2 separate regions of the Homo sapiens genome follow, and region 1 is reported to be linked to region 2. The links are microRNA targets in miRTarBase. Many come from high-throughput screens and were not tested one by one. Region 2 holds a microRNA gene; the other region holds the end of a gene's coding sequence.
The links. Region 2 holds the annotated microRNA hsa-miR-378a-3p (ACUGGACUUGGAGUCAGAAGGC, at 1,412-1,433, shown strand). A microRNA usually pairs through its seed, bases 2 to 8, with sites in the 3' UTR of a target mRNA and lowers its output. Matches are read on the target gene's strand: a 7mer-m8 pairs with bases 2 to 8, a 7mer-A1 pairs with bases 2 to 7 and ends in A, and an 8mer does both.

Region 1: miRTarBase lists CPNE1 as a target of hsa-miR-378a-3p. The part of its 3' UTR that is shown has no 7-base or 8-base seed match.

What each region holds. Positions count from the first base shown.
Region 1 is chr20:35,623,412-35,626,682 of GRCh38, forward strand. CPNE1 (copine 1) reads right to left here. Exons shown (of 16, transcript NM_152925.3): 15 at 3,156-3,271; 16 at 2,633-2,970. The coding sequence ends at 2,830. Among named protein-coding and RNA genes, the nearest start is that of SPAG4, 9.2 kb to the left of the region's middle.
Region 2 is chr5:149,731,456-149,734,455 of GRCh38, forward strand. It overlaps MIR378A (microRNA 378a), which reads left to right and starts at 1,370; the gene lies at 1,370-1,435. The region is part of intron 1 of PPARGC1B (PPARG coactivator 1 beta); the gene reads left to right. RefSeq lists silencers at 1-92, 103-152, 173-262, 293-522.

The sequences.
Region 1 (3,271 bases), not on the chromosome of region 2:
AAGAAATATTTTCAACATGTATGAGATGAAGGGGCTAATAACCTTAACAAAATAAAAGCTATAACACATACATGCAGACTATGAATAGGCTATTGAGAAGAACTATAATTTACAAATAACCATATAAGATACCGATCCTTCATATTTAAATAAATTCGAGCTGGGTGTGGTGGCTCACGCCTGTAATTCCAGCACTTTGGGAGGCCGAGGTGAGCAGATCACGAGGTCAGGAGTTTGAGACCAGCCTGACCAATATGGTGAAACCCCGTCTCTACTAAAAATACAAAAATCAGCCGGGCGTGCTGGCGCATGCCTGCAATCCCAGCTACTCAGGAGGCTGAGGCAGGAGAATCACTTGAACCTGGGAGGCGGAGGTTGCAGTGAGCTGAGATGGTGCCACTGCACTCCAGCCTGGGCAACAGAGTGAGACTCCATCAAAAAAATAAAAATAAAATAAAAAATAAAATAAATTCAAACTAAAAATGATTTTTTGCTTCTTTTTTTACCTGTCAGATTAACAAAAGGTGTAACTTTGACCATAATTTTTGTTATGAAGAATAATTTGCAATATCTATTAAAATTTAAAATATAACCTTTGATATAGCATTTCCACTTTTAGGAATAAATGTTTCTTCAGAACAAATGTTTCTTCAGAAACATTCCAGTTAAGTGCACAGACATATATGTACAAGGATGTTCATTACAGCATTGAAAGAAACTAAGACTCAAATCTCCATAAATAAGAGATGAGCTAAATAAGGTACACTCCTACAAAAAAAAAAAAAAAAATGATGGCCAGGTGCAGTGGCTTATGCCTGTAATCCCAGCACTTTGGGAGGCCAAGGTGGGCAGATCACCTGAGGTCTCGAGTTCAAGACCAGCCAACATGGTGAAACCCCATCTCTACTAAAAATACAAAAATTAGCCAGGCATGGTGGTGCGTGCCTGTAGTCCCAGTTACTTGGGAGGTGAAGCAGGAGAATCGCTTGAACCCAGAAGGCAGAAGTTGCAGTGAGCTGAGATCACGCCATTGCACTCCAGCCTGGGCAATACAGAGCGACTACGTCTCAAAAAAAAAAAAAAAAAAAAAAAGGAATGAAGCAATAGGTTCTGATAGGTAAGACACCAAAATGTATTAAATAAAAAGGTCCAAGTAGTACGTATAAATAGCCCATTGATAAAAATCTATTTTTCAGATCTAGGAAAAACAGGGGCCCTTACCTGCTCCACTATTTGTACAATGTGTTTTTGTTTTTTTTTTTTGAGAGGGAGTCTCGCTTTGTCACCCAGGCAGGAGTGCAGTGGCGCCATCTCAGCTCACTGAAAGCTCCGCCTCCTGGGTTCCCGCCATTCTCCTGCCTCAGCCTCCCCAGTAGCTGGGACCACAGGCGCCCGCCACCACGCCTGGCTAATTTTTTACATTTTTTAGTAGAGACGGGGTTTCACCCTGTTAGCCAGGATGGTCTCAATCTCCTGACCTTGTGATCCGCCTGCCTCGGCCTCCCAAAGTGCTGGGATTACAGGTGTGAGCCACTGCACCTGGCCTATTTGTACAATATTTATATTTGAAATAACTTCATACTAACAAGCACGTATTTTAAAATTAGAAAAAACAAATTTTAACACATGCTAAAACAGTATGTGTAGACAAAAAGTTATGTGCCCAATATGTTTTATCAGGACATGGGAGTTTGAGTGATATTTTTTCTGCACTTAAAATTTTTTTCTTTTCTGAGACAGAGTCTCGCTCTGTAGCTCAGGCTGGGGTGCAGTGGTGCAATACCAGCTCTCTGCATCCTCCGCTTCCTGGGTTCAAGCGATTCTCCTGCCTCAGCCTCCTGAGTAGTTGGAATCATAGGCACCCACCACCACACCAAGCTAATTTCTGTATTTTTAGTAGAGATGGGGTTTCATCATGTTGGCCAGGCTGGTCTTGAACTCCTGACCTCAAATGATCTGCCCTCTTCAGCCTCCCAAAGTGCTGGGATTACAGGCATGAGCCACCACGCCCAGCCAGAATTTTTCTACAATGAATACATGTATTCTCTATTAAGAAAAAATTAGCTGTTAAAAAAATTCAGGATTTTCACTTGTCTTTAGGACCAAAATTACCACTACTCCCTCCCCTCCAGGAAGTCTAACATAGCCTTTGCTCCACCTTAAAACTCATCCATCCTTCTCCTTTTGCTGCTTTTTATGAAGTCTGACACTTTCCATCTTTGTATTCCCAGCCCAGCTCTGCCCTGAGGGAGGGAAGGCGAAGGCTGGGTGTTTAGCTTACTTTCAAACTTTGTATTTCCTTTTCTTGTGTGTGTAATGGGGTCTTGCTATGTTGCCCAGACCTGCTCTGGAACTCCTGAGCTCAAGCAGTCCTCCCACCTCAGCCTCCCAAGCTGAGGACTACAGGTACATGATACCCACCCCTGGCTGTATTTTCAAAAACAGTGAGTCAGTGTCTCTAGAATGAATAGATATCTGCCCAGAAATACTCAACTTTGAGTGGGGCTTTACACCAGAGACATCCTTCACGTAACAACCCCTAAGTAAACAAACTAAGGTGTGGAGAGGGGATGTAAACATTGCTCATAGCAGCCTCCTACCTAAAAACACACAAGAGAGTGGTGGCAAAGCATTGGTCTTCACTGGTCTTTATTGAATGAGGGTTGTCAGGAGCAAAGGTGGGATCAAGAGCAGCAAAAGCAGAAACAAGTATAAAAGTATCAAAAAATACAAAGTGCTAGCACTGAGGAGAGTGAGAAGGGTTGGGTTGTGGCCCAGAGGGACCTCTGGGACACAGGATTGAGGACTTGCCACAGCCTCCAAGGGAACCTAGGCCTGGGGGGCCTGTGCAGGATCCTTGGCTGAGGGTGGAAGTGGCTTGAGCGGGGCCCAACCCTGGGCCCTGAAGTATGAGACCAGTTGTGTGGGCACTTCTGCGAGCACGGTCTGTGCCAATGCCTCCCGAGGGGCCTGCCAAGAAAAGGGAAAAGTCAGTGGTGGCCCAGAACAGCTGCCCAAAGTCTGTATTTCATGCTCAAGAACCCAACCATATCCCAGGCTTAGAGGAAAAGGTGAGCATCCCTTGGGCCTCAACCCTACTCACATCAGGGAAAGGTGAAAGGGTAAACTCCCAGATCAAATTTGCACCTACTCACATTCTGGAACCGGCGGTAGGGTACAAACTGCACAATGTCGCGGGCAGCAGCCTGCCCAGAACGTGTATGCAGGGGTCCACCATCAGCGTCCAGCTGCTCCATGGCCTCAAAGTCAG
Region 2 (3,000 bases):
GCGGAACCTCGGAGGAGCCCCGGGTGCTGGCACACGCCTGGGCACGGAGAGGGGCGGCCGGGCGGAACCGGGCGCGGCTCGCGGGGGCTGGTTTGGTACCTGGAGTGGGAGCGCCGGTGCCGGCCCGTTTTGCATAACAGTGGAAGGGAGGGGGAAGGCGGAGATTGGGGGAGGGAGGTGGGAGGAGAGAGAGGGAAACTTTGCTTCTTGTTATAATCTGCCTGTCTTTGGGCGGCAGCAGCTGTCATGGGACCGGGTGGGCGGGGAGAGGCTTGCAAGCTGACTCCTTGCGGTGAAACGCGACTTGGAAGGGACGCCGCAGCCGAGACGTTCAGCTCCGGGCAGCGACTTCGGGCTGGCGGCTGGGACGGCGTGGCGTGGCAGGGTGTCGCCGAGAGGAAGCCCGCCACGCGGGAGGCAGGCCGCCCCTGGCCCGCTGCAGACGCCGCTGCGTAGGGGAGCCGCGGGGCCGCGTGGTCGGTGGCGGGCGCGCTCGGGTGGGTTCGCGGCAGAGGCCGGAGGGGCTAGTGGCGTGTGATTGCGCTTCTCGAGATCGAGGGGAATGTGTGATGAGCGGGTTGCGCGCGCGGGTGTGTGTGTGTGTGTGTGTGTGTGTGTGTGTGCACACGCCGCGCGCGCCGGGCGCGTACCTTTACCTCTGACGAAACTGCGGTGGAGCTCCCGCCGTCGTCGCCGGGCTCCGTCACACGCCCCGCGCCGGTGTCTGCGCCGAAGGCAGGTCCCAGCCTCAGTACCCCCAGAGCCGACAGCTTGGGGCTAGCGGGCACTGAGTGCGGGAGGAGGGGCAGAGTCACTCCTGGGAAGATTCTGTCCCCAGATCTCGAAATTGCCCTGGGGCGTCTCCGAATCTCTTGGCTGAAAAGCGGATGAGAGAGGCCTGAAATAGCCGGAGACTCGTTCAGGGACCCATGTCAAGAACTGTCCGCTTTGGACTGTACCCCGGATTTTAACTCGATCTTCAGTGTTTGGCTCAGCAATAATTAATTATTTTGCCCTTTAGCCGCCCAGCGAGCCTAGCTAGCAGAAATATTTCAACTAAGGAAACTAGAAAATTGAATACTCAGGTGTTTGCAGGAGCAGTGCAGTGAAAGTTAATCTGGGACATTTGCTTTTTTTATTTAACCACATGACAGGCCGAGGATCTTCTGGTGATCTTTGCCGGCCCAACTTGGGAAATGTAATTGATAGGATGAGCTTTGAGCCGCCCCTAGAAGGCTCGGAGAGCCCAGCCGGAAGAGGACCTGGGCGGGCCCAGTGTGCTCCTCCTTATTTTACAGCTGGAGAAAGAGGCTGCGAGGAGTGAGCGGCTTGTATGGGACCATGCAGCCAGAGGGTGACAGAGCCACCCAGGGCTCCTGACTCCAGGTCCTGTGTGTTACCTAGAAATAGCACTGGACTTGGAGTCAGAAGGCCTGAGTGGAGTCACCTTCCCCACTCTCTGGCTGGGTGACCCCGGAGCAAGCCATTTGAACTCTCCGAGCCTCATTTCCTCCATCTGTCAAATGGGGCTGGTGGTGCCGCAAGAGAATCCAATGGCCTGGTGGTGGGGGTGAGCAGTGTTTGCATGTGAGATGTTCTGGTTGTTCCTGCAACCCCCTCTCCTCCCCCAAACTTTCCCTGACCCTCCCCTCCTTCATCTCCCTTTGGGAGCTTTGGGGAAAGTGGATTAAATGGTAATTCATTGTCTTTGTCCCAAAAGATTGTTGTTGTCTTTGGTGGCTAATCCAGGGTTAGATTAGAGGGAGGACTTCTGTTTAGGAGACTTAACTTTTACCCATTGGGGCCAAAGTACGGAAATTTAGCAGAACAAGGATTGCGAAAGTTTCTTGGAAAGCTTTGAGGCATGGATCCCAAAGGACTGTGGGTGGCTTCACCTTTGTTCAGGCTATGCCCCTGGCCCAGAGTACCCTCACTCACCCGTCCTGCATGGCCTTCTCCTCTACTAGGCTCTCCCAGCCCAGCTTGCCCTGCTTTCTCTCCTTTGGTTTTCTGCATCTGTGTGATACAACCAAGCACTTTGTGTGAGTCTGGTGTCCAGTAAGATTCTAGCACTAGGGTTGTACCTTTTATCATTGTGCCTGCAAGGCACCTGTCAGTATGCTGAGCTGTGTTCCTTTGCTTAGCTCTTGGCTAGGCACATGGATTACAGACAGGGGTGCAGCTGGGTCCTGCCAAGCAGAAGCTCCCAGGCTAGCAGGGGAGACAGCTGGGCAGCGAGTGTGGGAGAGAGGAATGCAGAGGGCTGCAGCTGTGGGCAAAATTTTAGACCCCAAAGGCCACACAGCAAGTCCACACTAAATATGGGCTATTTGAAGTTGCTTAGGGCATCAGTCATAGATGCACAAAATGTCAGAGTTGGCAGCGGGAATGTTAGAAATCATCAGTTCTAACAACTTATTTAAAAATATTTAATTATAGAATTGTTAGAAAATACTGCCAAGCATAAAGAAAAAAATGAGAAATATGTAACATGACCCAAAGATAACCACTTAATTGTCATGTATATTCCAGACTGTTTATTTCCTGTTCATATAGATCACATCTTATTTTTAAAAAATGGAGTCGCCGGGCACGGTGGCTCACCCCTGTAATCCTAGCACTTTGGGAGGCCGAGGCGGGTGAATCACCTGAGGTCAGGAGTTCCGGACCAGCCTGGCCAACATGGTGAAATCCTGTCTCTACTAAAAATACAAAAATTAGCTGGGCGTGGTGACACACACCTGTAATCCCAGCTACTTGGGAGGCTGAGGCAGGAGAATCGCTTGAACCCGGGAGGCGGAGGTTGCAGTGAGCCGAGATCGCGCCACTTCACTCTAGCCTGGACAAAAGAGCGAAACTCATTCTCAAAAAAAAAAAAAAAAAAAAAAAAGGAGTTATCCTGAATATACTGATTTGTAACTTGGAATTGCACTGTTCTGTAACTTGTTTTTTTTTTTCCTCTTCCAAACAATATGCTGTGAACATCTTTCCACATCAGTA